Regions from separate parts of the Homo sapiens genome. Here all the other regions are reported to be linked to region 1. Evidence: microRNA targets listed by miRTarBase, many of them from high-throughput screens and not tested one by one. Region 1 holds a microRNA gene; each other region holds the end of a gene's coding sequence.

Region 1 (7,301 bases):
GGACCCCGAGCGGGACCTGTCTGACAGGAACGCCTGATGCAGGTGGCACCGGGATGGGCTCGGCCTTGGTGGGCCCCTGGGGAGAGCCCACGTGTCCTGATCTCCTGGTGCATATTCATTAAGACGCGTGTGAAGGGGCCCCACTGACAGGGGCACACTGACATCAGCAAGGGGGCCCTTTTCCTGGCTGCTGTAGGCTCTCGCCGACCCTGCCCTTGGCACACCAAGGCCCTGCACTGACATTTCTGCGGACCCGCCGCCCTGTGTTGTGTGCCGTGTGTTACATCAGGGAATCAGACCTGGGTCTCTCTGGGCAGAAAGTGTCTCCGATGAGCCTGTCATTTCCTACTTCCTCTAAAAAAATAATATCCAGAGGCAGACGGAGCGTCTTCCTGGATGAAAGCCCTGCTGTTGGAGCCTCTGTTCAGAGTGGGCAGGCTCTGAACGGGGACCTGGGGCGTTGTCAAGGAGCCGCTGGGCCTGCCGTTCCTGGGGCCGCCATGCAGCCCCGCGCCGGGCAAAGGACAGTGGACAGAGCCCCTTGCCGGAGGGTGTCCTGTGGAAGACAGTGGCCTGGGCCCTGCCCGGAGGAAAACGGGCACCACACACCTCCTCCTTCACAAACACCTCTGTCTGCCTGGATGGGAACCAGAAACAATATCCAGCCTCTCATTTGTACTTCAGACAAAACACAGGCCACCTGTGCACACGCGATACGATGCAGGCTGACGTCTGACTGAAGTTACTGTCTGGGCTTAAGTGAGCACGAAGGCCGCACTCACTGCTGCCGGGCAGCTGTGGACCGTCTGCCCCGTGCCCCCACAGCGGCTCCCCGCAGTCCCCCTTTCCCCCCAGAGGCCCTTATATACCCCACCTACCTCATCAGGAGCCCCGCTGCCTGGGAAGAAGTTCCCATCGTCGTAGCGGTGGAGGGACATGTACAGGACGCTGGGGTCGCTGTAGAAAGCCTGCTGGGTCCCGTTTCCATGGTGCACGTCCTTAAAGAGCAGGGACAACTACTTCAGGGCTGAGGCAGGTATTGGAGGGTGGCCTCCCCTGAGGGCCGTCCCCAACCCCAGTTGTGCTTAGTGACAACGGCTCCTGCTCAGGAATGACATTACCCTCCAGCTGGGCCCGTACCCGGCAGGCGCGATTCTGGGGCTGTGTGGGTCAGGGCTACGTGGTGCAGGGTCGCAGGGGTTCTAAGGGCCAATGTTCGCGTCTGCAGCACTGTTTCCCTCGCCCTTAGCGCCATGGCACAATCCTGACTCCAGCAGCCGATGGGGCTGGAGTTCAGCCAGGCCTAGAGGCCACCATTTCCCAGACGAAGCCATCTGATCAATTTCCTACACCTGCCGTGTCTCTGACAAGTGAGCCACTTCCTCAGCCTCTGTCAGGAAGGAGGTCACTGGCTGTGGCCTGCCCGCTTGCAGGCACGTGGGAGGTGCCAATTCCATGCCAGGCAGGGCGTTCGGCAGGAGACAAGTCCCAGGTGTCCGTGAGTGACAGGCACACACAGTACGGGGTCCAGGCCCCTGTGCCCAAATGGCAAGCACCGTTTCTTAATCACAAAACCCACAGGTCAGATGCAGCAGAGAGCACAGGCAGCCTGGGGCTTTACTGACCGTGGCTGTTCTGCCCCGGGCCACAGGGCAGGTGGTCACCAGGATGGGCGGGCGAGGGGGTGGCCCCGCTGAGAACAGCTGTGTGCCTGAGAAGACAGCATGCAGCCCTGATGTTCCCAGCACGAGAACTTGCTGCTCCGTTATCTGTGCTCATCACAGAAAAGGCGGAAGGGCAGCTACAGGTGAGGAGCGATGGACAAGAACCTTCCACCCCACAGAGTAGGTAATCGCTGTGAAGACGCACATGGAGGCTTTCCCGACATGTGGCTTCACACTGAGATGACCCTGTCCGCATGGTGTGTACATGGGCAATATCACAGCTCAGCGCGCAGGGAGCACGCCACACAGGGTCTACGCAGCCTGTCTGCGTGTCCTAGCGCTTCACTCTTTTGGGGATGGGTCCCCAGTCTTTAGCCATCAGCGACCTCACACTGCTCTCTTCCCAGGCACTCCTACCTGCTCCCTTAGGAGGAGCTGAGGGAGGGCTCCCGGCTCGCAGGTCCTTGGGTGTGGGGGACCCGCTGCTCTGCCGCATCCCCTGACCTGCCTCTCCGAAACAGCATGGCTGTCCTGGCTGTGCCATATTGTTTCTTTACCCAAACTCAGAAGGACTTCTCCAATTCAAATCATAACCCTACCTGACAGGGCCTGCTTTTTTCCCTTAAAAATTATGAAATAAATCATAAATACCAAAGAGAACACTAAATATGTATATATCTGGCTTTAAAAAGAGTAATAAGATGAATATCTTGAATATTAATTTCCGGTATAAGAATGAGTATACCTATTCGTGGAATTCAGATTCGGACATCATATAGCATTATTTAAAAAGAGATGACTCTTTTGGGGGCAGTGGCACCCCCCATTCCAGCAGGACCAGGTGCCCACACAGCAGCAGGAAGGCACGGGCTTCACTGGGGTGACTGAGAAGCAGACTGCCGCCTTCGACCAGGGTGAGGGTCCTCCCAGGCTCCCAGGCCACACACGCAAAGTAGATGTGGACACAGCCTCCTCCCCAACACCTGTCTTCCAAGAAGATCTCGTCGAGGGTGGCCCTGGCCGCTGCCGTCACCCACAGGCACATTTTTAGACACGCCAGGACCCCATTCGCCAGGGTCGGCTGACGGAAGCTGTACAATGACTTGTAGCAGGTTTGGGGCTTTACTTCTCCGCATCTTTGAGACCGTTTCCAGAAACCTAAGCTTCCCACATCCAAGAGCCCAGCTCCTCTGTCCACACGCTGCTGTCCGCTCGGGGACGGCAAAGGAGCAACCTGAGCTGCGCTGGCCAAGGCGGCTCTGCTTACCCAGTCCACGATGAGGATCTTGCTCACGCTCAACCTCTGCTGCAGAAGCTTGGCTGCCACGGCCACGGAGTTGAAGTAGCAAAAGCCCCTGCGGGAGAGAACTGACGCTGGAGACGAAGCGCAGGTGGGCGGTGGCCAGTTTCTCCACGGCCCGCCAGAGAGCCACTCGGGGTCCACGCAGACCTAAGAGGTCTCTGTGAGTGCAGAGCTCCTGAATACGTCGCAGGGAACCCTCAGTGATGCCGGAGAATCGGTTAACAGACAGACACGTACACACCCCACATGCAGACACACTCACACGCGTGCGCGCGCACACACACACACACACACACACAGCTCCCAAACAAGCCACTGGGGAATCTTAGCCAATGCCATAGGGTCGGCTAACCGACACGGACATGCACACACCCCACACAGACACACACACCACAGACAGAGACACACACACACCCCCCACAGACACACACACCACAGACAGAGACACACGTACACCCCACACAGACACACACACCACAGAGACACACCCTCCCACACAGACACACACACCATGCAACACGCCCTACACACATACATGCCCCACAGATACGCCCATACACCACAGACACACACCCCACACACACTCCACACAGACACACACCCCACACACACCCCACACCCCACAGATAGAGACACACACACCATGCAAACGCCCTACACACATATATGCCCCACAGATACGCCCATACCCACCCCCCCCACGTAGACACACATGCACAGATACACATGAACACCCCATACAGAAACACTCACACACACACAAACCACAGACACATACAAGCACACACACACATATACACATAAGCATATACCTATCACACACATCCACAGTTCCATACTGAGACAGACAGACACACACACACACACACACACACACACACACTCTCCTGCTTGGAGGTCCCCCACGCTCCTCTGGTAGGGAACCCTATTTCACATGTTACCAACATTTCCCTCATCTTCACCTGGAACCCTTCCTCTCAGGAGCTGCCGCCACGCCCCAGGAGACATGGCAGCCGTTCATCTCAGTTGCTTCCTGCTGACCTTCCTATATTCCAATACATAAATTACCTTTAATTTTAGAGAGTCTTACTCAAGAGACCAAGAAAACAAGCTATGAAAGTGATTCAAATAACAACGAAAACCTTCTTGATCTCAAATTCCCTTTGTCCGAATGACCACAGAAACGGAGAAACACTAGTTGTTTTGTTTTCAGAATCCGGGCTGGCATGGGGAAGCCCACACGCCCCAGGACATCCTAGACGCTGAGCTCCTGCAGCGGCTCACGGGGAGCACAGCGAAGAGCTGCAACAAAACACAATTCGTTTGTCTCCTCTGAGGTTTATTATTTGGAATATCCAACAACTCAGGTTCAAATTAGAAAAGAAACTTCAGAGAAATGAAACAAACAGGAAGCCTGGTGCCCAAGTGACTGTTCTGGGATGTGGAGCAAACACGTGGTTTTCAGGTAAAGCTACAAAGATTCCAACAAGCATCCCTCCCTGGCGGTTACAATCTCCTCCCTGTACACGAAGGACACTCTGCTCTAACACGCGGATCTGACTATCTCTCACGTACAATCTCCTCCCTGTACATGAAGGAGACTCTGCTCTAACACGCGGATCTGACTATCTCTCACGTACAATCTCCTCCCTGTACACGAAGGAGACTCTGCTCTAACATGCGGATCTGACTATCTCTCACGTACAGTCTCCTCCCTGTACACGAAGGAGACTCTGCTCTAACACGCGGATCTGACTATCTCGCACGTACAGTCTCTTCCCTGTACACGAAGGAGACTCTGCTCTAACACGCGGATCTGACTATCTCTCACGTACAGTCTCCTCCCTGCACATGAAGGAGACTCTGCTCTAACACGCGGATCTGACTATCTCGCACGTAGTCTCTTCCCTGTACACGAAGGAGACTCTGCTCTAACACGCGGATCTGACTATCTCGCACGTACAGTCTCTTCCCTGTACACGAAGGAGACTCTGCTCTAACACGCGGATCTGACTATCTCTCACGTACAGTCTCCTCCCTGCACATGAAGGAGACTCTGCTCTAACACGCGGATCTGACTATCTCGCACGTAGTCTCTTCCCTGTACACGAAGGAGACTCTGCTCTAACACGCGGATCTGACTATCTCGCACGTACAGTCTCCTCCCTGTACATGAAGGAGAATCTGCTCTAACACGCGGATCTGACTATCTCTCACGTACAGTCTCCTCCCCGTACATGAAGGAGAATCTGCTCTAACACGCGGATCTGACTGTCTCTCACGTACAATCTCTTCCCTGCACACGAAGGAGACTCTGCTCTAACATGTGGATCTGACTATCTCTCACGTACAGTCTCCTCCCTGTACGTGAAGGAGATTCTGCTCTAACACGCGGATCTGACTATCTCTCACGTCCTGCCGGCCCCTCCGTGGACGCCTGACTTCCCAGGGGTGACAGGGAGGCCCTTTCCCGGGCCCCTGCGGTTCTGTCTTGTTCTGACTGCTTCCTGGCCACAGCCTGATAGTGAACTTGTATCTGCACTTGTTCTTGCGTTGCCATCTGACAAACTGCTGCTCCAACTCTCCAAGGCAGAGCCCTATGCCACCTCCTCCTCACCGAAGCTGGCAAGATCAGGCACGCCTTCTCCATCTCCAGAGCATGGGGAGACGCTCTTTCTAGCACCACCCCTCCTCACTAGAGCGGCTACCGTCCCAGGAGACAGCATGCTCTTTGACGGGATAGATCATTCATTCACCACCCAGGCTGCAAGGCACTCCACAGACAGCTGCGGGTCTGTCCTGCCACTGGCTCTGGACACACAGGGATGGATCCGGGAGGACCCACACCCCACACTCGCCACCCTGCCCAGATCCTCAGCTGTATGGACCGTCGGCAGTCTCTGAAAGACCCGAAACAGCATCAGGATAGCTGCCTGCATGGACGTGGCTCTGTGGCTTGCTGCGTCAGTACCAGGCATTCGGCAGGCAGCTAAAAGGCCATGCGCAAAATGACCTGAGTCCTCTAGACAAGCAAGTGCTGCAGTGACTCACTTGAGGGTGAGTGGTGTTTCCTCTCCCAAGTGTTGACAACTACTCAACAACCAGAGGCTTCTCTGGACTAACCTCCACAGACCCTTTCCCATCCTTTCCTCTGATCTGTCTCCGTCATAACCGAGCAGTGATGCTCGCAGACTTTGGCATCTGCACTCCACACCCAGGAGCTGGAGCCAAGCCGGCATGCGGCACATCCTGGGTGGCCAGCAAACAGCAGCCCAGCTCCCCGCAGTCACTCACACACCCACCCAGCCCTAAGGGAGGGAAGGAAGACCTGGGTTCCCCTGCTGTGCGGGGCTGCGGCGTGTACTCACATGGGCGTGCTCTCCTCCGCATGGTGTCCAGGGGGGCGGACCACAGCAAAGCCATTCTGCAGGTGACACCAGACAGCCAGGAGAGAGCAACAAAAGACACACTTTGTAGCCACGGGAAAATGGTTGCACACTCAACTTTTAGCAGAGTTGGGCTACACAGGAGGACAGTTTCTTGCTGCACCCTGGCCACAGTGATGGGGACAGGATGCAGGGCCAGCTGGGAGCCTTTCCGGGAAGCCTGGGCCCTTCTCCTAAAGAGGTCTGGGGGCTACTAATGGTTCCCCCGAAACGCAGTCACTAGGATAACAGGTGGGTGCCTGCCCACTCTCAGAACTGTCGGTGAGGCGTGGTGCCCTTGGCTCAGGGGTCGGGGTGATGTGGAAAGGATGTGCTCACTCCCCGTCGGCTCGGGACCAGGACCCGCTAGGTGGCCACTGGAGGAAGATGAAGCAGAAGGGGCCCCACTCAAGGACTTGGCCGCGGGGCAGAGACGTTGTGTCCCAGCTTGGCCTTCACGTGACTGCCTCTGTCCTTACTGCAGTTCAGCTCTCAGGATGGCGGGCAAGTGGGCAGCCCACGAAACAGCTCCTCTCACACTGGGCAGAAACGCTGTCCTCTGCCCCATCACTTCTGCGTCAAAAATCCATCTGCAAACCACTCTGTAGTTGCTGCCATAAAAATGGATTCCAGTCCTCTCCTGGTCTCACCAGCAACAGGACACTGTGTGGTCAAGGTCTGTAATGAAGCCTCAAAAAAAGTGCCGGCCAACCATGAGTGACAATGCCATGGACGGGGTGAGCCGGACGCCGCAGGGACCAGGCTCAGGAAGGGGCGAGGGCAGCCCATGAGGTGGCGGCAAACGCTCTCAAGAGGCCCTGGCCTCCCTGCGTTTCTGCACTCAGTGCTTCCGAGTGTAGGCTGCAGACCCCTCGGTCCCGACCCCTGCTGAGGGTCTGTAGTCCACGT
Region 2 (7,301 bases), not on the chromosome of region 1:
CCAGGCTACTTTGGGTGGCTGCCAACAAAAGGCCATCCACAGTAAGAGGAAGACACACAGGAGCACTGAGAGTGGGGATGCATTTCATGGTGAACAAATGCATTACAAGTGCAGTGAATGTGGGAAAGCTTTCAGCCGCAAAGACACACTTGTCCAGCACCAGAGAATTCATAGTGGAGAGAAGCCTTATGAGTGCAGCGAATGTGGGAAAGCCTTCAGCCGCAAAGCTACACTTGTCCAGCATCAGAGAATCCATACTGGAGAAAGGCCTTATGAATGCAGCGAATGTGGAAAAACCTTCAGTCGAAAAGACAACCTTACTCAGCACAAGAGAATCCACACTGGAGAAATGCCTTATAAGTGCAATGAATGTGGGAAATATTTTAGCCATCACTCCAATCTAATTGTACACCAGAGAGTTCACAATGGAGCAAGGCCTTATAAGTGCAGTGATTGTGGGAAAGTCTTCAGACACAAATCTACACTTGTTCAGCATGAGAGTATTCACACTGGAGAAAATCCTTATGATTGCAGTGATTGTGGGAAATCCTTTGGCCACAAATACACCCTCATTAAACATCAGCGAATTCACACTGAGTCAAAGCCGTTTGAGTGCATTGAATGCGGGAAATTCTTTAGTCGAAGTTCTGACTATATTGCACACCAGAGGGTTCACACTGGTGAAAGGCCTTTTGTGTGCAGTAAATGTGGGAAAGACTTTATCAGAACCTCCCACCTTGTTCGACACCAAAGAGTTCACACTGGAGAAAGGCCATATGAGTGCAGTGAATGTGGGAAGGCCTACAGCTTAAGCTCCCACCTCAATCGGCACCAGAAAGTTCACACTGCAGGCAGGCTTTAGGAGTGCTTTGAATACAACAGGACTCATCAATCAGATGTTGAATTTCATGTATCTGAACATTGACACAAAGGAGATACCTTATGGTGCCAGGTACGTGGGAACCTTCTAGGGATATGTTGCACTTTCTGACTTGCTCAGGTTTTTTGCCAGAGTTATGTCACTGTCAATCCATGTGGCCGAAACCATCTTAACTCTACCAGCTAAGATACCCCAGCATTGGGGAAGGCAGGGTTTTGTATTGTCCAGTCCCTGGAGAAAATCATGAAATGCCTGAGTTCATTGGGGGTCCTCATTCCCTTCTGTATGACAGGTATAGGTATGGATATGACCCATTTTTAGCCAAGAGGGTCTGAGCTGTATCTGCTGGTGGCTTATACAAAAAGTTTACTTTCTTCATGGATATTCTTGGTCTCACATACTTGTAATCAAGTTTTTCCAGCCTCCAAGTCACCTGGCCTGGGAAAGTACTTGCCTCATGTTGCTCTGGTTTGTGATAATAAAGGCTTTACAGTTTAAGCCACATTTAATCTTGGGGCTTCTTCTTATGGTCTGGGGTGGATTGAAAACAGGCTCTGCCAAACTGAAGACAGCCTTTGTGCGGTGCCTCCAACTTTGCCTCAAATGGGACAGTGGGTTGAGGGAGAACAGTTCTTAGTCCAGTTTTGATGTTAACTTCCATAGCTGACAAAGCTTGTTAAGTAAGAATTAAGATCTTGTGTAGACCTGATTTGTCTGGATTTTAGAGTTATTTGAGAGCCCATATTTCACCTTGAGGAGGGTGCTGCTGCTGTGACAGCCTGCAGTGTTTTGAAACAGCATGGATTGGGTGTCTTGTTTGCAGCATGTGTCCCATGTTCCCCAACACTGTTGAGGGAAAGCTGTTCCTCAGGACCTGCTGAGTGGCCATATTCCCTGAAGGCCTGAATCTGTTTCACAGGCCACTGTTGGTAAGATCTAAAGCATCCAGTAGGGAAACAAAATTGATAAATATTGAGTGTGAGTAATTGGGATTGGGGAGATTGTGGCAAACTAGAGGGGAAGTGCCCATTGTAAAAACACATCCACAGACAGTCCAGGCACTAAGGCTGAATGGGATCAGGGTATCCAGAAATCTCAGGATCTCCAGGGCCATGTTACTGTTAGGTCAAGGTCACTGGTGCAGCAACGAATGTAGTTTTTCTAGATTCCTCTCCCTCCCTGGGCTCTTTACCTAATGTCTTTGCGGCACAGGCGGTAACCCTGGGAGTAAAGAGGTGTGGTCCAAGGAAGTAGCTTTTGTGACCAGCTGGAGTTTCTGGTGACTCTTTTGGCAATGGTCCTCATTGTTTGCCAGTTTTTCTTACTACTGAGGAAGAGATTGTCTTCCCAAGATATTTGGAGTGATAAGAGTCACCATAGTGAGGTAGAGTCACTCTTAGTGATGTCCAGTTGTCCAGTTTCCAATAGAAGTGGGAGATCCAGATTTTTAAATGGGATAACTTTTTATAGGTTCACTGAGGTGTAATCAACATGCAATATATTGCACATATTTAAAGTGTACGAGTTAAGTCTTGATACACACACACACACACACACACACACACACACACACACTTGAAACTATCACCCTATCAGTGGTATTGGACATATCTGTTACCCCCAAAGTTAACCTGAGGCCCTTAACCTTTCTCTCAGTGCTCGCCTTCCCCCAGAATCCCTAGGCAACCACTGAGTAGTTTTCACTGTAGGTAAATTTGTCTTTTCTAGAATTTTATGTAAGTCTGCCTATAAAGTGTTAATTTTGCATGCTGTCTTTCATGCAACATAATTTGAAATTTGTCCATGGTATGTATGAACAGTCCATTTTAAAATTACTGAGTCATATTCTGTATGGATATACCACAGTTTATCCATTTATCTTAATTGATGTCTGTACTCCACCCCCATTTTTAAATATTAAAAAGCTGCTGCAAATATTGATGCATGAGTCTTTATGTGGACACTTAGCTGAGAACATTTTTAAGCAGAGGTTTTGAAGGTGTGACCATATATCTTACTAATTATAGTAAAATATATTGGAAAAGAGATACATACAGGGAAGAACTGTGAAACAGAAAAGACCTAAGATTTGATGATTTGGGAAATTCTCAGCCCATCTTAATTGGAAAAAAAAAACAAACCATTGAAATTAAGAGATTCATTGTTAGGAAAGATAGATGTTTTAGAGAGAGAGATGTTTTAGAGAGATAGCCAAGGATGTTTGCTGATACCGGGATCAAAACATACATCAGAACACTGTCACACAAAAAGCTCTTTGAAGAGATTAAATGTGACTTGTAGATCCCCTCAATACAAACAATTTATAAGAAGTTTAAACTATCACTCATCTCAGCAAAAGCCAAAAATATAGATAGGGGATTCCCTAGGAGGAATAATCTGCATAAACCTCTTTTCTAATGTTGTGAATTTCAGTGATGTACAGGAGACTCACAAAATTCTTGAAAATTTTATACCAGTGGAAATGCTCACCTTGGGTCTAAAGGGACCTTGAAAGTATGAAGTTAAAGGGTGTAGGCATGTAAAGTGTGAAGTTAAAGGTTGTAATATTCTATACATGGGACTGGCTGCGGAAACAGGTGCAAGCCCTTGCTACCTTTCATGAGAAAGGAAGGATGACTCAGAGCAGAGGAGAGTCCAGTGGGCAGAGTCCTGAACCATGTGATATTCCCATGTCTTGACTCCCAGTGGCATTTGCCAAACTAGATTTCAGATTTTCTTGGGATTGGTGGTTCCATTTTTTTTGTTTTCCCCCCTTCCATTTCCTCCCCTTTTGAAACAATGCATATACATATAACTATTATCCTAGGTCTTTCCCAACCTTTTGTTTGGGAGCAGATAACTAGTTTTCTAGTTTTACAGATCCAAATGAGACAGGAATAGCACTGGGTGGTCACAGGAGGATGGAAAATCTCAACACCCTGGTTTTGGTGCAGCTGAAAAAAAAAAAGAAAAACCCAAACAACAGCTAAAACGGGAACTAGGCAAAGAAACCGTGGGATAACAGAAAACCCAAAACAAAAGAGAAAACTGCCAGAACCCCAGTCAGGGTGACATGTCTGTAACTCTTCCAGGCAAACCCAAATAAGGGAGGAGGGGTGGTAATCAGGGGTCCCTGAAATCCCCTCTTTTCCCAGAATACCTAATGATTACCCCTATTAAAGGAACACCCATACAATTAGAAACCCAAACTTTGTTTTGCATGACTTGCTCTCAGGGGCACTCCCACACTTCTCTCTTGTGTGTACTTTTGCTTCACAATAAAAGCTGCTTGCCTTTGCTTCACTGTGACTCGTCACTGAATTCTTTCAATGGTGTTAAGAACCTGGATGCTGCTGGGGCTGGGATCTCACCAACAATGTCCAGAGACCCCCCCGAACCCCCCAGCAACACAGAGAAGAATTGTGCCCCAAGATGGGATTATACCTAGAGCCTCATCCATATTGGACTTAGACAATTTAGATGAAATTGGAGACTTTAGCTCAGTGTGGAGGCGCACACCTGTAGTCCCAGCTGCTCAGGAGGCTAAGGCAGGAGAATCGCTTGAACCCAGGAGACAGAGGTGGCAGTGAGCCAAGATTGCGCCACTGCACTCTAGCCTGGGCAATAAAGCGAGACTGTCTCAAAAAAAATCATAAAATAGTAAAAGGCATCAAATTTTTGAGGGGAAATACCTATTGGTGAACTGAAAACTCGACAACAGTTCTGGTGTGTGGGATAACATGTTAATAGCCTTGATCATTTTGAATTTCATAATCATAAATGGGATTTTGTTTTTGAGATGGGGTTTCACTCTTGTTGCCCAGGCTGGAGTGCCATGGCACTATCTCAGCTCACTGCAACCTCTGCCTCCTGGGTTCAAGCGATTCTTCTGCCTCAGCCTCCTGAGTAGCTGGGATTACAGGCATGCACCACCACGCCTGGCTCATTTTGTATTTTTAGTAGAGACAGGGTTTCTCCATGTTGGTCAGGCTGGTCTTGAACTTCTGACCTCAGGTGATCCGGCTGCCTTGACCTCCCAAAGTGCCAGGATTACAGGCATGAGCCACTGTGCCTGGCCTTTTGGGATTGGTTTAAAGAGCTGTGGAAGACAATTGAGCAATTACCACAGAGATTAGCAATGGAGTTCCTAGTATATTTGAAAATGAATAAAATTGTTCCTGGGAAAATTAACAATAGTGATCTCAGTCTAAATTACAGAGTAAGCAATTCAGAGAGGATAATATGCCACATATGCATAGATTTGTTTAAAACAGTAAATTATATAGCACTGTAAAAATTGAAAAAAATACTATTAGAACAACAAACAATTAGGTTGATGAAGCACAATAAGAGACTAATGAAAAGGAAAGAAATGAAATTACTTAATATCAAAATGTATGAAATAAATTTAAGCCATATACAAGCATGCCAAATTAACTTGTGAGATTAACAAAGAGTGTATTAATTGGGGAAAAAGACTAGGAGTCTGCAAATCCTAAGATTAGGCTTAACACTAAGCCTCTTACAAACTTCAAGTTTTCAAAAAGGCTCAAGGTTTTCTGGTACAGAGGTACTATGGGAGCACAGTTCAGATTTAACTTAACATTACGTTATTTAGGCCAGGCACGGTGGCTCATGCCTGTAATCTCAGCACTTTGGGAGGCTGAGGCGGGCAGATCACGAGGTCAAGAGATGGAGACCATCATGGCTACCACAGTGAAACCCCATATCTACTAAAAATACAAAAAATTAGCCGGGTGTGGTGGCAGGCGCCTGTAGTCCCAGCTACCCGGGAGGCTGAGGCAGGAGAATGGCATGAACCCGGGAGGCGGAGCTTGTGGTGAGCCGAGATCACACCACTGCACTCCAGCCTGGGTGATAGAGCAAGACTCCACCTCAAAAAAAAAAAAAAGAAAGAAAATTACAGTCTTTAGGAAACTAGATATTCATCAGAGAGTGTATGTGACCAGAATAAGCCATCTTACGACGTCTAGATGACACAGTAAATACTTATGCTGATTCAAAATTACCTGAGCTACTTCAACATAGGACATAGCAAAACACTGATAATTACATTACTGTATACTTATAAAAGATGCTTGTGGCTGGGTGCAGTGGCTCACACCTATAATCCCAGCCCTTCGGAAGGCCAAGGCAGGCGGATCATCTGAGGACAGGAGTTCCAGACCAGCCTGGCCAACATGGTGAAACCCCATCTCTACTAAAAATACTAACATTAGGCAGGAGAATTGCTTGAATCCGGGAGGCAGAGGTTGCAGTGAGCAGAGATTGCGCCATTACTCCAGCCTGGGCGGCGAGAGCAAAACTCCGTCAAAAAAACAAAAACAAAAAAAACAAACCATGCTTTCAAATCTGCCTAACAATTATAGCTTCAGAGTCCTTGTATTCAGGATTATCTATTTGTAACTTACTACTTTTTACAAATATTTTTCTTACACTAAATTAGAAAGAATGTTTGGTCTCGCAGGTGTCTGAGAATCTTTAGTAAAATACCCCTACAGATTCTATTTTGGAATCATGGTTTTAAAAAAAGCAAAAGTGTGTATTTCCAATTAATTGCTACAGAGATGCCAAATGTCCACTCAGTAGTTGTGAGTAAAACAAATTGTCTTATTGCTCTTCACTTCACAGGCAAATAAACTCTTCGAGTGATTGTGTGAAGTTCAGAGTATTAGGTCAGGGATGAAATGGAGGCTAATCCAGACACGTTATAAGAGAAAATATGGAATAGAGATTCTAGGGGCACTAAAGCAAATGCATGAGGTGGTCTATGCTTCTGAGTCCCTCATAGTATGTTCCTTCTGAGTATTTGTATTCTAAACCTCAAAATTACAATTTTTTGTATAACATTTCTTACTGGATTCTCCAAGATATAATCTACTTTTTGAAGAATATGACATTTATGTAGAAATAGTGGTTACTTACCAAACTGGTATTTGCTACTAGGAAAGTAGCATCAGTTTTTGGCATGGGCATCTGAACTCTGAGAATAAGGTTTGGGATTCCATGACCTCATCTCCTTGCTGGGAAGTGATGGTCATTTTATTCTTCCACCTGTAATTGCAGTGACAGTGTCTCCAAGAGGATTGGAGATGATCTCTGAAAAAAATTTTTGAAGTTAGAAAATTGTAGAAAGTTATTAACATTAATTACTGGAGTTATCCATTTAGAATGACATCATACCTAAAAGAGAAAATTATCTGTGAAATGGGAACAAATAAAGGTAAATAGAGGAAACAGTTCTAAGACATGGGACATGTAAGTTGAACCCTTGGTTATGCTGGAATCTTGGCTCCTATGAAATTTTTTTTTTTTTTTTTTTTTTTTTTTTTTTGAGATGTCTTGCTCTGTCGCCCAGGCTGGAGTGCAATGGCGCGATCTCGGCTCACTGCAACCTCCG
Region 3 (7,301 bases), not on the chromosome of region 1:
AAACAGAACTGGGGTCTTGGGCTTTAAAAGTTTGATGGGCTTCCCTGCCTGAGACTTTGAGACTTCTGCTTTGCTCCCTCCTCTTCACTTCTCCAGCCACTGACCCCACCCTTTCCCCGCTTTTTCAGGACTGGGAGGTGCTGGTCCTAGGGAAGCTCAAGTGGGACCTGGCTGCTGTGATTGCACATGATTTCCTGGCCTTCATTCTGCACCGGCTCTCTCTGCCCCGTGACCGACAGGCCTTGGTCAAAAAGCATGCCCAGACCTTTTTGGCCCTCTGTGCTACAGGTAAGAGCCCTATGCACATTTTTGCCAAATTGGAAAAATCAGAAGACTTATAAGGGTGAGAGGTAACTGAAGATTCTGGTTTATACTGTCAAAATTCCTTTGTGAAAATTATACCCCCTCTGAGCCCCCAGTCTCAATGCAGAAAAGCAGGTTATAATCAGCTATATGGGATCTCAGACCCCTCCAGTTTGTAGTGGGGACACTGAGGGTATAGAGAGAAGTGACTTGCCCAAGGTCTCACAGTGAACAGGTTGGGAACAGAACCCCAGTCTCTTGGCCCTAGTTGTGTTCCCATACTAGGGAGTGTCTTGTCTATTCCCGGGACCTATGGAAACTGGCAGTTGGTTCTGATCTCTAGGAAAGATACTCTTTCCTGTCTTCCTCCCTTGCTGATATCTTGCCCCACCCACTGCTGGAGTTTTCCAGCATGTCCTCTGCTCTACTCATGCTGCCTGGCACTTTCCAAGGAGTCGGAAGTCCATGCTGGCCGTTATCCTTCAGGTTTCCTTCTCTCATGGTTCCCTTTCCTCCTCTCCAAGATTATACCTTTGCCATGTACCCGCCATCCATGATCGCCACGGGCAGCATTGGGGCTGCAGTGCAAGGCCTGGGTGCCTGCTCCATGTCCGGGGATGAGCTCACAGAGCTGCTGGCAGGGATCACTGGCACTGAAGTGGTGAGTGCTGGGTAGCTGGGCAGCAGCCTCTCCATTCATAAAGTAGTGCTATGCCCTGAGCCTCCAGTAGAGGGAAACCTCCAACCCCAACCTGGTCCCAAGTCCTGGTTTCACAACCTTGGGGCTTTGTGGCTTTTTATCTCCTGCCTTGGTCTGGGGAAGAGCAAGTATCTTGGGTGGGGTGAAGGGCACTGGCCCTAGGGGTTCTTTTCTTGCCAAGTGGTGTGCTGGAGTGGGGGTGGGGGGTTTGGTGTCAGATGCAGGGCTGCTCTCACACTCCCTTGCCACATCCTCTTGCTAGTTTCTGAGAACTAAAGAGCGATTCCTGGGGCCGGGCTGTGGCCTAACCTCCCCAGACTTCCCCATGTGTTGGGAGCTGTCCTTCCCCTGCACCTGCTGCCAGATGCTATGGGGGGAGTGTTTGCTCCTCACTCTTCTCCCATGTTCCCAGGACTGCCTGCGGGCCTGTCAGGAGCAGATCGAAGCTGCACTCAGGGAGAGCCTCAGGGAAGCCTCTCAGACCAGCTCCAGCCCAGCGCCCAAAGCCCCCCGGGGCTCCAGCAGCCAAGGGCCCAGCCAGACCAGCACTCCTACAGATGTCACAGCCATACACCTGTAGCCCTGGAGAGGCCCTCTGGAGTGGCCACTAAGCAGAGGAGGGGCCGCTGCCACCCACCTCCCTGCCTCCAGGAACCACACCACATCTAAGCCTGAAGGGGCGTCTGTTCCCCCTTCACAAAGCCCAAGGGATCTGGTCCTACCCATCCCCGCAGTGTGCACTAAGGGGCCCGGCCAGCCATGTCTGCATTTCGGTGGCTAGTCAAGCTCCTCCTCCCTGCATCTGACCAGCAGCGCCTTTCCCAACTCTAGCTGGGGGTGGGCCAGGCTGATGGGACAGAATTGGATACATACACCAGCATTCCTTTTGAACGCCCCCCCCCACCCCTGGGGGCTCTCATGTTTTCAACTGCCAAAATGCTCTAGTGCCTTCTAAAGGTGTTGTCCCTTCTAGGGTTATTGCATTTGGATTGGGGTCCCTCTAAAATTTAATGCATGATAGACACATATGAGGGGGAATAGTCTAGATGGCTCCTCTCAGTACTTTGGAGGCCCCTATGTAGTCCGTGCTGACAGCTGCTCCTAGAGGGAGGGGCCTAGGCCTCAGCCAGAGAAGCTATAAATTCCTCTTTGCTTTGCTTTCTGCTCAGCTTCTCCTGTGTGATTGACAGCTTTGCTGCTGAAGGCTCATTTTAATTTATTAATTGCTTTGAGCACAACTTTAAGAGGACATAATGGGGTCCTGGCCATCCCACAAGTGGTGGTAACCCTGGTGGTTGCTGTTTTCCTCCCTTCTGCTACTGGCAAAAGGATCTTTGTGGCCAAGGAGCTGCTATAGCCTGGGGTGGGGTCATGCCCTCCTCTCCCATTGTCCCTCTGCCCCATCCTCCAGCAGGGAAAATGCAGCAGGGATGCCCTGGAGGTGGCTGAGCCCCTGTCTAGAGAGGGAGGCAAGCCCTGTTGACACAGGTCTTTCCTAAGGCTGCAAGGTTTAGGCTGGTGGCCCAGGACCATCATCCTACTGTAATAAAGATGATTGTGAAATAAAACTGGCTTTGGCTTCTTGGATTGGTGTGTGGGTAAGTCTATTTCTGCACTGTATGAGGTAAGGAGGTGGAAGTCAATGGTCTAAAGCAGGGATCATTGAGCCTTTTCTGTAAAGGGCTGGATATTTAGGCTTTGTGGGGTACATGGTCTCTGACCCAAATATAGTCAGTTCTGCTTTATAATGTGACCTATGCGTTCCTAAAAATCACTATGCCATGCAAAATTGCACAATAAAGACCACAGGTCTCATGGGAAAAATGGGGCTTGAAGCACAACACTCAAATGAGTGACACATTTAAAAAAAAAGGATAGCTTGGTTTTTACATATGTCAAATGGTTGAGAAATTATATCACAATAAATATGGCCTTTTATCTTGAAGACATGCACTTTGCTTTTGGAAGTGGACGTCGGAAGGGTTGCTCAACACAGGTGGGGAGATGAGTGAGGTAGCTGGTACATGTTTAGGTGTGAGTTTTGTGTACTACTTAGGCTTGGTTCAGCTAGATACAGTTTCCCATATTCACCTACTATTTCTCGAGGATGAAATCACACACAAGCAAACATGAAGTCTGCGTTATGATCAAACTGTTCCCAAATATATTAAATGGGTTGGAACAAATGCGCAATTTCGAAAGCAAATAACAAGGGTTATAGCAGGATTATACTTAAACTCTGCTGTTGTAGCACAAAACCAGCCACAGAAAACATGTAAATGGGTGAGCATGGCTGTTCCAACAAAACTATTTATGGATGCTGAAACTGGAATTTCATGTAATTCCTACCTATCACAAAATACTGTTTTAATTTTTTCCCCATTTAAAAATGGAAAAATCATTCTTAGCTCATGGGCCACACAAAAATGGGCACTTGGGCTGGGTGCAGTGGCTCATGCCTGTAATCCCAGCACTTTGGGAGGCCGAGGCGGGTGGATCACCTGAGGTCAGGAGTTTGAGACCAGCCTGGCCAACCTGGTGAAACCCCTTCTCCACCCCGTCTCTACTAAAAATACAAAAATTAGCCAGGCGTGGTGGCACGCACCTGTAGTCCCAGCTACTCAGGAGGCTGAGGCAGGAGAATCTCTTGAACCATGGAGGCGGAGGTTGCAGCGAGCCGAGATCATGCCACTGTACTCCAGCCTGGGCGACAGAGCGAGACTCCGTCTCAAAAAACAAATCAACAAAAAAAGGGGCACCTGGCCCTAGTTTACTAGTCACTAGTCTAAAGCTTTCATTGGCTGAAAAGCCAGAAAGGGAGCCTGTTTGATGCTAGCTCTGATCTAACCATTCTTGGGCCCAGCCTTATTCTCTGGCCTTTTTTTTTTTTTTTTGAGACAGTCTTGCTCCGTGGCCCAGGCTGGAGTGTAGTGGCCCCAATCCTGGATCACCGCAACCTCCACCTCCCAGGTTGAAGCGATTCTCCTGCCTCAGCCTCCCAAGTAGCTGGGATTACAAGCACACGCCACCACACCCAGCTAATTTTTGTATTTTTAGTAGAGAAGGGGTTTCACCATGTTGGCCAGGCTGGTCTCGAACTCCTGAACTCAGGTAATCCACCTACCTCAGCCTCCCAAAGTGCTGGGATTACAGGCGTGAGCCACCAAGCCCAGCCTCTCTGGCCTTTCTTGACTCTTATCTCTGCTTTCCCCAAGGAGTTTTCTCTTGTAGTCCTTTCATCCACTGCTGAGACACGACCATCTTTGGACAACCTGCTCCTGGCTGCTGTAGCCTGTGATGGGGGAAGGCAGAGGATGTGTCCCCTGGGGGCTAACAAGGTGAGTGCAGCCTGGAGAAACAAGCTTGGAGATCAAGGGAGGTGGGTCCTATATAAACAGGACAAGAATGTCCTCCGTCCTCCAAATACTAACAGGAGTAATGCCTACCTCCATTGACTACACCAAACACAGAGGTTCAATAAATATCTGTCTTTGCCTTTATCCACAGTGACCTGACACAATAGCCATAGAAAAAGTACTCACACCAAGCCCCAGCTGGGGACTGGGAATGCTAGCATATGGTATCTCAAGTTGGCTCTCAGAACTAAACAGGGATAAGGGCCTAGAATGGAAGAGGGAACCAGCCAGACCCTCAGTCCTTCCTGTCCTGGACTGGGAGCCACAGATGTCCCTGTGATCTGTCACTGCCCTGATCTGGGTCTTCAGCCATTAAAGCTCAGTGTCATCTTCAGTCACCAACGGGGGTCTTGGTGTCCTTCCAAACCCCTTTGGCCAGGACAGCTGACTGTTTTCCTCACTCCACGGTGATGGGAACATCTTCCACATCGCGGGGGACTGCACTCTGAAGCTCACGCCTGATTTCGGGCGATAGCTGTGGATGGGGCTGCAGCCGGAGCAGTTCTAAGAGGGCCTCTTTCTGGTCTGTGGCCAAGTCGGCCTTGTAGCGCTGGACCAAAGTCAGGAGGCACTGGTGCCACAGCACAGGCAGTTCACGCTTCTCTGTCCGGAACCCCAGGAAGTGGAAGACTAGGGCATCCAGCACCCGGTAAGGCAGTGCATACTTCTTATCCAGCAGCAGTCGCAGGAAGATGCTGTTGGCACCGCTGTATTCCATCTCAGCAATTTTCAGCATGGCCGCACTAGTGGGAAAGGGAGGTGGGGTAGAGTAAGCAGGGAAAACATTGGAAGAAGGATCCTACTTCTCCCTCTATGCTTTCCCCTTTTTTTCTTCCCCTCTGCTGGCCCTTACACTATGGTATTCCCCAGGGACCTTCTCACCTACACAATCATATTATACTCCCTTGACCTCAGTCACCATCTCTACAGGGATCCACCCAAATCTCTATCTCTAGCATAGACTGCTTGTTTCAGTAACCAACTAGAGTATGGTCCAAACATCTCAACGTCTCCACCCTAACTACTTTCTTCCTGTGTTTCCTACTCATTTGTTTATCTATTTACTGAGAACTTACTTTATGCCAGGCACTCGGGCCCTGTTGTTGCACAACTTACATTGAGGGGGATAATGATACACCTACTCATTGGCTTAAACAAGCACAAACCCAAGGCTTTCCTTAGCTCCTTCTCCACTCTGCCCATTCCCAAGTCCTGGCAATTCCACTATCTGGATATCCACTGACCAGCCCCCTTCCACCCCCAGCAATACTACCTGGAGTGCAACACAGGGATGGAGCACTTGGTGATGATGCTACCCACAATGATGGCTTCCCGGAGGGTACAAGTGCCAGACTCGCACAGTGGAATCAGGATCCCTAGGGAGAGTCAAAGGGCAGCCACTGTGAGCCCAGGATGAGAAAAAGGAGTTACAGCAGGAAGCATTCCCACCCAGCCCAGGGACAGCTAGCAATTTCCCACACCAGGCCTGCTGTGTTCCCCATAGAAGCTCCAGCCCTTCCCTTTCTTCCGTGCCTCTGGGATCCCACCTTTGAACCAGGCTCCAGGTTTGAAAAGGGCCTTCTTGAGAGCCATGTAGAGATGGAAGTTGAGTCGTTTGTATTCAGCAACGTCATCTCGTACTCGAGGGAGCAGGACAAGGTTGTAGAAGCGCTGGGCCATGCGTTCCTTCAGGTTAGAGGCAAAAATCCTAGTGGGAGTTAAGCGGGGGAAGTTTCCAACTCACACGACAGTCTGGACCCGGCCCATTAAATATCACCATGGATAGTGCATACAAGAGGTTTTAAAGTAAAATATGGGACCTTTCTTTCAGTGGGGGATGTGTGGGAGCTGTGTGCATGCAACACCCATCAGCTTAGAGAGAGAATAGGAGGGGCAATGAGATATACCCAAATGAGGAGCACCGTTTGTCTGTGGGAGAGCCAGAGCTCGTGCAAACTGATGGCTACTCAGCATCAGTTGAGTAGCCCTGAGCATGCCTGGGCAGTCACAGACTTCTGAGGGTCCTGCTACAGGGTTGTATCCCAGTGGCTATAAAAGCCTCTCCCCTAGAAATTCATCACAGAGGGTTGTATCCCAGTAGCTATAAAAGCCTCTCCCCTAGAAATTCATCACGGAGGGTTCCTAACTGGCTAACTGGGTCTTGGCCCCAAAAAATGACACAGGAAAAGCTAGAAAAATGATGCTATAAAGTAGCACAGAGAGGGCCCTGGGGCAAAGCTCAAATGCCCTGGGGCCAGAGGCAAGGAAAGCCTGTCCGTCCCAAACTCAGCCTGCACCTATAAACCCAAGGCCCCCGAACCCCCAGCTACTCTACCTGGTGGCCTGGTACATGGCAGCTGCAGTCCAGGCCTCCGGCTCTGTGACGTAGAGGATTTGCTCCCAGTTGGAGAGTGCAGGGATGATCTTAAATGCCTTGGGCAGTTTTCCACTGCGGTACTTAGATAATACCTAGGGATGAGGGAGGTAAAACAATCATCGTCATCCACATATGGCAAGCTTGCTGTGGGCTAGGAACTTGTCTGGGTGCTTTTAATATATTAACTCATTGCATCCCCACAATAACCTATAAGGAGGTGCCATTATTATGCTCATTTTACAGATGACCAGTGAGAGTTCCAGTAACCGACCCAAGGATGCCAAGTCATTTACAGGCAGAGCAGGAATCTGAACCCACACACTCTGCCTCTTAGGTCTGTTTTCTACTCCCATGACTTCTTTAGTATGTGATGCAGGCAAAAGGCAAAAAAGCCTGTGGCAGGAGCCCACAGCCCCCAAAGGGGTCTTCCACCATGGCTCCCCTCTCAGCTCTTACCTCCCGGACCCCCCTGTACACTTCTAGGACCCGGGGGTCCAGCTGGGGC

What was found. The annotated mature microRNA hsa-miR-4441 reads ACAGGGAGGAGAUUGUA and lies in region 1 at 4,605-4,621, opposite strand. An mRNA with a match to its seed (bases 2 to 7 or 8) in the 3' UTR can be bound and repressed. Matches are read on the target gene's strand: a 7mer-m8 pairs with bases 2 to 8, a 7mer-A1 pairs with bases 2 to 7 and ends in A, and an 8mer does both.
Region 2: miRTarBase lists ZNF134 as a target of hsa-miR-4441. Seed matches in the 3' UTR shown: 7mer-A1 at 1,772-1,778, 7mer-m8 at 2,056-2,062 and 7mer-A1 at 4,011-4,017.
Region 3: the mRNA of CCND3 is a reported target of hsa-miR-4441. Seed matches in the 3' UTR shown: 7mer-m8 at 1,641-1,647 and 7mer-m8 at 1,796-1,802.

The regions. Positions count from the first base shown.
Region 1 is chr2:239,081,224-239,088,524 of GRCh38, forward strand. MIR4441 (microRNA 4441) reads right to left here and starts at 4,703; the gene lies at 4,604-4,703. It overlaps HDAC4 (histone deacetylase 4), which reads right to left. Exons shown (of 27, transcript NM_001378414.1): 19 at 6,336-6,391; 20 at 2,932-3,019; 21 at 879-998.
Region 2 is chr19:57,620,542-57,627,842 of GRCh38, forward strand. ZNF134 (zinc finger protein 134) reads left to right here. Exons shown (of 3, transcript NM_003435.5): 3 at 1-4,183. The coding sequence ends at 862. Among named protein-coding and RNA genes, the nearest start is that of ZNF211, 9.0 kb to the right of the region's middle.
Region 3 is chr6:41,930,222-41,937,522 of GRCh38, reverse strand. It overlaps CCND3 (cyclin D3), which reads left to right. Exons shown (of 5, transcript NM_001760.5): 3 at 129-288; 4 at 828-964; 5 at 1,416-2,571. The coding sequence ends at 1,583. It overlaps BYSL (bystin like), which reads right to left. Exons shown (of 7, transcript NM_004053.4): 3 at 7,253-7,301; 4 at 6,755-6,888; 5 at 5,967-6,127; 6 at 5,693-5,795; 7 at 4,477-5,162. The coding sequence ends at 4,817. Among named protein-coding and RNA genes, the nearest start is that of CCND3, 7.9 kb to the left of the region's middle.